2 linked regions of the Homo sapiens genome follow. The protein of the gene in region 1 purifies or fractionates together with the protein of each later gene. This does not show direct contact. Each region holds a gene or a part of one and is shown on either strand. Other genes may lie near its edges.

The links.
Region 2: the proteins of TBC1D28 (region 1) and DUSP29 purify together in Homo sapiens (affinity purification with mass spectrometry; one large-scale study listed by BioGRID and IntAct). This does not show direct contact.

What each region holds. Positions count from the first base shown.
Region 1 is NC_000017.11:18,641,452-18,645,898, reverse strand, and holds the start of TBC1D28 (TBC1 domain family member 28), read left to right. Parts: upstream 1-1,507; 5' UTR 1,508-1,609; intron 1,610-1,615; exon of another isoform or gene 1,616-3,162; intron 3,163-3,266; exon of another isoform or gene 3,267-3,313; intron 3,314-3,900; 5' UTR 3,901-3,975; coding exon of another isoform or gene 3,976-4,071; exon of another isoform or gene 4,072-4,120; intron 4,121-4,165; coding exon of another isoform or gene 4,166-4,267; intron 4,268-4,447.
Region 2 is NC_000010.11:75,045,914-75,049,724, reverse strand, and holds part of DUSP29 (dual specificity phosphatase 29), read left to right. Parts: intron 1-3,811. UniProt on the Homo sapiens protein: Dual specificity phosphatase able to dephosphorylate phosphotyrosine, phosphoserine and phosphothreonine residues within the same substrate, with a preference for phosphotyrosine as a substrate. Involved in the modulation of intracellular signaling cascades.

The sequences.
Region 1 (4,447 bases):
TGTGCGTGTGTGCACTCCTGTTGACCCAGTTTCTGCTCTGTGGCCAGGTCCATGACCCTAGACGACCCCAGGTGTGCCCTCGATGACGTCTGCAGGGATGGAGCACCGCCCCTGCCATTGGGTATTGCACTGTGTGATGCCATCCTCGGGGCCCTCAGGGTGATGGAACCCAATAGGCTTCCTTAGGCTTTCCTTTCAGATGGACAGGAAATAGATGATGTTCCATTGTCATTTTGTTTTCTTTCTTTCCATGGATTCTGTGACCATCTTCCTCTCCTCATTGACTCTGCCAGAAGGGGATTCCTGGTGGGGCAAGGGTAGCTGGTGGGAAATGAGCTACCAGGAAATTAGCAAAGGGTCTTCTGGCCATCTGGGGACAGTTCTCATGTGGTCCCCAGCCCAGTCTCGAGGCTTCTGGGCCGGTCACCCTGCAGCCTCGGTGCTGCGCCTCTGGATCCAGCCTCCGCAGGAAGAACCCTGGGAGACCCAGCAAAACGGGGTGCCTGGTCTGACAAACGTCCCCCCGTTCCTCTGGCTCTGCGGCTCAGGAATAGGCCGAGACATCATGTCCAGGCAGTGCCAGGCCACCTCACTGCCCCCTTTAAGGTTGAGCGCAGAGGGCTTTTGGGGGCGAGCATGAAGCTGGGCACCCAGAGCCTGAGGCCGACTGTCCCTCCCTGTGTCCTGGAGTGGGGGCCTTGACCCGAGAAGACCCCCAGGGGATGGCCTGTGGGTGCTGATGTGGGGAGGGGAGGTCTGTGGACTGAGGGGGGTCATTGGCAGGGGACATTGATCACCGCGGCTCAGGGTTCTGCTCAGTGGGGTCAGTGGGAACGTGGTCAGTGAAGGCCTGGTCAGTGGGGGCCTGGTCAGTGGGGGTCTGGCTGGCAGAAGCCTGGCCAGGTGGCAGCTAGGTGACTTCAGGCAGGGTTTGTCCTTGGAGCCTCCTTGCCGCCATCTGTAGTGGGAACGAGTCATGGCACTCCGGAGGGCTGCTGGGAAGAGGAGGTGAGCAGGTGTGTGGAATCCAGCCCTGCCAAACAGATCTAGCACTTTACAGCCTAGATGAGTCCCCTGCTAGGGAGGGGACCTGCCCTTTGCCTTTTGCCCCCAACCCTCAACCTTCTGCCCCCTATCTTCCATCTGCAATCCCAGGAATGCCCTGGATGGGGAGGTCTGAGTTTAGGGAGCACCTGTGGATGCTCTGATGATGGCCATGGGTCCCGAGGGGGGAGAGAGTGACAAGGGTGACCCAGTGTCCTGGGTGCACATATGAGTGGGGCAGCTGGGCCTAGCCAGAGCAGTGACAAACGCATGCACACATGTGTTCACCCACATACACGTGCATGCTCACATGCACAAACACTGCACACACGCACGTTGACACTTCAAGGGGTGGAGGGTGCTGACTCTGGTCCCGGCTGACCCAGGCAGGGGCCCATTGTGATGGGTGTCATGACCTCACAATGTCACTGGTGCTGAGCACTCGCCCACCTGTCCGCTTGCCGTCTCTATGTCTGGAGCTCTTAGAGATAAGACATAGAGGTGTCTGGTTCTGAGAAAAGGAAGTTTTGCTAAGTGAGAGACACAACTGACTCAACTGACTCAGGTGAGTGTGACCTGCTCTGTTCCTTCCCTGCTGACCTGGGTACAGTCATTACCTGGTGGGCAGGGCTAGCCTCTGGGCAGGTGCCGAGGAGGGTCATCCCTGAGCACTCACCAGGTGCCTGTTCTGCACTGACCTGGTGGACTCTGTGGGGTGGGTGCTGTCCCCGAATGTACCCATTCCACAAGTGAGATGTCTAGGGTCAGAGAGGAGGTGACTGGCCAAGAGACCCAGATGTGATCCTGGGCTGTGCTCTCAGCCCTGCCCTGTGCATGCCCTGGTCTCTATGGCCCTAGATTCCAAATCTGCCCAGGGTTTTCTGGCCCCTGATGGGGCAGAGTCTGGCCCTGAAAGAGCTACTGGGATGGAACTCCTATGGGTGTGGTGGAGGGAGGTGGTGCTCGGTCCAAGTCTGTGCCCTAAGCTGGGTGTCCGCAGGAGGAGGTCTCACCAACTCAGACTTCACGTGCGGTCACTGAGGGTCTCCGTGGGACCCACTGGACACATGGGGTCCCTTGTCTGGGAGTAGGGAGCCCTCTGCCTGTGGGCAGTTGTGGTAGAGGACCTTGAACACTGCTGCTCTGGGGCCTGGGCAGGGAGGACTTGGACAGTGGGGACCTGGTCAGGAAGGCCTGGTCACTGGGGGACTGGTCAGCGAGGACATGGTCAGTGGGGAATTGGTCATCAGGGGCCTGGTCAGCAGAGGCTTGGCCACTGGGGCTTAGTCAGTGAAAAACTGGTCAGTGGGGACATGGTCAGTTGGAGCCTGGTCATCAGGGGCCTGATCAGTGAGGACCTAGTCAGAAGGCCTGGTCACTGGGAAAACGGTCAGTGAAAGCCTGGCCGGCAGGGGTCTGGTTAGTGGGGGCCTGGCCAGATGGTTGCTTGGTGACCTCAGGCACGGGGTTTGTCCTTAGAGCCTCCTTGCCTCCGTCCATAGCAGAAATGAGTCATGGCACCCTGGAAGGCTACTGGGAGGAGGAGGTGAAAAAATGTGTGGAATCCGACCTTGCCACTCACACCCAGCATTTTACAGTCTAGCTGAGTTCCCCCTAATGAGGGGCCCTGTCCTGTGCCCTCTAACCCCTAGCCCCCATCTGCATCTTCAGGACTGCCCCGTGTGGGGAGTTCTGAGGTTGGGGAGGACCCATGGATGCTCTGATGCTTGCCACAGGCCTCAAGGGAAGGTGACGCTGATTAAGACTTGATGAGCACTTGGGTGCACATGTAAGTGGGACAGCCAGCCCTGGCCAGAGACGCTACTCGTGCACACACATGTTCACCCACATAAACATACATGCTCACCTGCACAAACACATTTTGACACCTTAGGGGCTGGAGGACACCGACTCTGGGCCCTCTTGACCTGGGCAATGGCCCATTATGATGGGTGCCATGACCTCAAAATGTCACTGGTGCTGAGTGACCGCCCACCTGCCCACCCACTCACCTCTGTGTTGTGCAGCACTTGCACATAAGACGCACACAGGTGTCTGGTTCTGTGGTGCATGAACGACTTTTCTAAGCGAGAGACACAGCAGCCTGAGCAGACTCAGGTGAGTGACCTCTGGGCAGATGCCGACGAGGGTCACCCCTGAGCACTCACCGGGTACATGTTCTGCACTGACGGCGTGGACCATCCTCTCCTTTGTCCTCACAGAGACTCTGTGGCGATGGGTGCTGTCCCCAAATGTAGCCATTCCACAGGTGAGATGTGTAGAGTCAGAGAGGCGGTGACTGGCCCAGAGACCCAGATGTGACCCGGGCCGTGCACTCAGCCCTACCCTTTGCCATGCTGGACTTGAGCTTTGACCGCTGAGGCCTCTCTACCCTAGATTCCAAATCTTCCTTGAGTTCTGGAATTCAATGAGGCAGGGTCTGGTCCTGGAAGAGCCACTGGGACAGAGCCCCTGTGGGTGGGGTGGAGGGTGAAATTCTTGGTCCAAGTCTGTGCCCTAAGCTTGGTCCCCACAGGAGGAGGTCACTGATGGTTGCTGTGGGACCCACTGGACACATGGGGTCCTTCATCTAGGAGTGGGGTGGGGAGCCCTCTGCCCTCAGGCAGTTGTGGAAAATGAAGGAGCCCTGGAGGGCTGCCTGGAGGGTGACAATCGTCTCTCCTGGTCAAAGAGGCTTGGGGACTGGAACCCTCCTGCAGCGTCCCATTCTCTCTGTCTGGTCCTCTAGAGGCCTTGCCTTCCGTTTGCCCCGAGTATTCCTGGGGGGGACGGTTCCCCCAGGTGTTCTCTAGGACTAAGGCCCCAGCGTTCTCTTGTTCTTTCTTGGTGACCCAGGAAAACAAAGTCCCCTCCTGTATTGACAGCTGGGAATTGTGGTGTCCACCGTCCTCGACCTGCGACGGGGTCTCCATGAGCACAGAGGCTGCTCTGGAGTCAACAGATCATCTTTTCCCCAAACCAAACTGCTTGGCTGGCGTTGTTCCTGAAGGGGCTTCACTGGCCAGAGTGAGTGAGAATTGGGGTAGAACGGAGCAGTCACCAGATGTCTTGCTTCCTACGGAAAACTGATTATCTTCCTGGTCCCTGAACCATCCTATAGAGACATCCAGTCCCTGACTCCACCTGCCTCCAGGTGCCCAGAACAGCCCATCGTGGGGACTTCACCCTCAGCAAGTGGACGCCGTTTGTCCTGCCAGGGCAGGTGTGTGTCTGCCTTGGGGTGTTCGGGGACAATAGGCCTCTCTGTTCAGGTCCCCGTGTGCTCAAATCCTCAAGAAGGAGCCCACCACTGGTTGGAGGTCAGGACTTCAGAGATCCAGTCAGGGGTGGGGCCACTGAGTCTGGCCCCTTGTCATCTGGGAGGGGTAGTGGAATGGGGCTC
Region 2 (3,811 bases), on another chromosome or scaffold:
AGGAACTAATTCCGCCTTAAGGCACCGAGCACGAATGAAATTAACCTGCTTCTTCGAGGTGTGGGTGGTGTGGCCAGTTTAGGATGCAGCAAAAAACAGTCAAGGTTGCGAATTTAACATGCTGGGCGTTACCTGAAATAACTAGGACTTCCAACTACTGAAGGCAACTGAGGCATAGCTGGGCAGCAGTCACAGGCAAGACGGTCGGGGAGAGAAGCCTGAGGCCCTGGCCTGGCCTGGCCTTCTCATTGCCAGAACACGGCTTAGCAGTCAAGGCCTCAAGCAACATAAACCATCTCCTTGCATGGTTAGGCAAATGCCGAGTCCAATCACTCACACGACATCATTTCTCAAAACCAGACCTCCTGGGTACTCTCTTCTCTTCACCTCCATCCTTGGAGGAATAGAGTTTGGGAGAGTGGGGCAGACAGGAGATTTCCAGTAGAAGTTAAAAACCCCGAGGCCACCTTATGCCTTTACAATGGTCTCTCCTGAAAACTAAGGAAATAACAATACAAATCATGCTATATTTACATAGTAAATGAATATATGACTCGTTCATTACTGAAAATGTACAAAATGTAGAAAGACAAAAACAAGAAAATTTAAACTACATATAATCCCATTACCACATTTTGTCATGGGATAAGCACATTCTGACATAAATCTTTCCACTGCCTTTTCCCCTTGGAGTCATCTTTTAACCTCTCAAAGAAGCTTCAGTATTGCATCATTCAACTTCACAAGACTCTCACAAGGAAAGTACTGCCAGTGTAATCGGTACTATTTAGCAAACAAAGAAAACGGAGGCTCCCAGCAGTTCTGCCACCTCAGTTCATGCGTCAGTTTCAGCTGTCAGCCCTATGTTTTCTCAGGTGCCTCAACACGGAGGAGCTTCACCCTCAAGTAACAAGAACACCCAAGACACCGGAAGGCCGGTTCATTTCACTTTCCCATCAGGTGAACTAACCGAGATCAGATGCCAGAAATGTGCCCACTGTTTTAAAGTCCACTTGCAAGGAACGGGCACACTCAAGACTGCACGGTTAAGACTCCACTGGGTTTGGGAGGTGGAGGCAGGTGGATTACCTGAAGTCAGGAATTTGAGACCAGCCTGGCCAACATGGTGAAACCCTGTCTCTACTAAAAATACAAAAATTAGCCACGCATGGTGGCACACACGTGTAATCTCAGCTACTCGGGAGGCTGAGGCAGGAGAATTGCTTGAACCTGGGAGGTGGAGGTTGCAGTGAGCAGTGAGCCGAGATTGCGCCACTGCACTCCAGCCTGGGCGACAGAGCGAGACTCTGTCTCAAAAAAAAAAAAGAAAAAAAAAGTAAACTACATGATTCCAGTGAACTGGGAAGAGTAAAAAAAAGGTTACAAAAAAAAAAAGTAAACTGCATGAGTCCAACAAATGTGTAAACAATGTCCATCACTGCTAAAATGAATCAGTGAAAACAAGACACCATTAATTTTTTTTGTCTATGAAATTGACAAAGAATACGGACTGCAATTTTTAGCAATTTTAGCAAGTTTTCTGTAGGGTAATTTAGTAACAAGTATCAAATGTATTTTAAAATGGCCATATCTGTTGACCCAGCAATTTCACCTTTAAAAATGTCTCCTACGGACATAAACAGAGGAGTGCCCAAAGAAACACATCAAAATGTTTGGTAAGAAAAAATTGGGACATACCTATATAATGAAATAGCATGCAGTTATTGAAGTCTTATATGTTGCCACAGGAAGATGTTTACAATATATCACGTCAAAGGTTTTGAAACTTTATATATATAGTATTGTACCAAAAAAAAACCTTTCTATAAAATATACAAATCTATGCATAGAGAAACAATGGGAGGTTCTTACATCAAAAGCTAACAATAGCCTTTATCTCCAGGGGAGTAGAAATACAGGTGATTTTTTTGGAGGGGGGAGTATGTTTTCTACATTCTACATTGAGCATGTGTTATTTTTGTCATGAGACGACATATTATTTAAAAATTGAACAGACTGATCACATCTAGGATTGTGCCTAACCAGAAACTAAAGCTCCTGTGTCATCTAGATTCTGGAAGTACATTCTTAAATCTGTTTTTCTTTCTGAAGTCTTTTCTCCCTCAGCAGAGGCATTTATGTGGACCCAGGAGTGGGGCACACGGCCTTTTCTCCATGCCCATCACCTCAAAATGCCCCTGTGTTTCTTAGTCTCTTTTTAACATATGTGAGCAGATAATGTATGTGGCCCTGAAATTTAAAAACAAAACCAAAGCAATCTAGTGTCAGACACCACCCTCTGAGCCTGCCCCACTCCCAATAATTGCTGAGCTGGGCATCTGTCCCATCTGGGGACTGGACGATGGGTGTCTGTGATGATGGCTCTGCCTCCCCCACAACATCTGTGTAAGAGGCACTCCATTTATTTGCAGATTCCCATTCTGCTGTGGATGCTCTTTCAAGCCCTCAACTGAACTCTGAGTGAATGAAGCTGGGGGAAGTCCCCAGAGTGATGTGTGAGGATACCAACTCCCCTTCCCGTCCAGGGAGCCAAGACCCTGAAAACTTGTGGTGGGCCTCAAATACCCACCGGGTCTCAGGGTCCTCACGAGCCCCTTTCTCTGCCTCAGGCACAACCAACGTCAGCCTGGTGTGGTGGATATGGAGGTGTCAGGCAATGAGTCTTGTTGCATATCTATCCCGCTCCCCAAAAGTGGCAAAGTGCAAACTGTTATTCATTCAAACTGCCACTTGATTATGTTGAAAGCCAGTTACTGAACCCAGAGAGAACAGTCTTCATGGTGGGTAGGAGCTTCCTGTCAAGAAGAGTTAATTTTAATTTTTCCACTGAGCTCAACCTCAAAGTGAGGTTGATTGCTACTCAGCAAGATGGACTGCATTAGCGGCGGCTTTAATTGGGCGCAGATCTACGTCCCCAAAGCATAATGTTTGTTGTACACATACTTTGGGGCAAGACGAAAAATGAAAAGCAGACCTTTCTAAGGAAAAATGGAAAGCACAATGTGTCCCACAGTCAGAATGGCCACACTAAGAGCCAAGTGGAGGGGGGCTCAGTGGGACTCCCCACCTCCCCATGCCACAGTTCTGATGGGCTGTCTGCAAATGTTTCCAAATGCTCAATTCCCTTCCCAAACACTGGACACCATCATGGTTCTCATGCCAAATAAAAAGCTCCAGGAAACCAATGAAAGACAAGCGCACCCTTGGCCGAGGGGCCATGGCATATATTTCTGGTGTGAGGCTTCCTCCTGGCTCAGGGTGTTGGTCCCTGCTAGCATCTAACATGGTCACTTCTGTCCACATGCTTTTACCAGTGGCCTTGAGATGAGCCCTCAGCTGGAGTGCAATGCCACTTTTACCCTCTTACTGGTACGGCTCCAGACCCTTGTCACATCTTCCCTGAGCTGAAGTCCTGGTCTTCATGCTATTGAGGGAAGTGTCTTCTTAAACCCAGATTGTATCACTTCTCTTTAAACACTCTCTAGAGCTCTCTTTGACTCCCAAACACAGATCCTAGCATCCAGGATCCCCACACATCAGCCAGATTGATTTTTCTTTTTCTTTCTTTCTTTTTTCTTTTCTTTTTTTTTTAAAGACAGAGTCTCTGCTGCTCAGACTGAGTGCAGTGGTGCAATCACAGCTCACTGCAGCCTCAACCTCCCTGAGCTCAGGTGATCCTCCCACTTCAGCCTCCCCAGTAGCTGGGACTACAGGCACATGCCAGCATGCCCGGCTAATTTTTTTCCCTTATATCTTGTAGAGATGGGGTTTCATGATGTTGCCCAGGCTG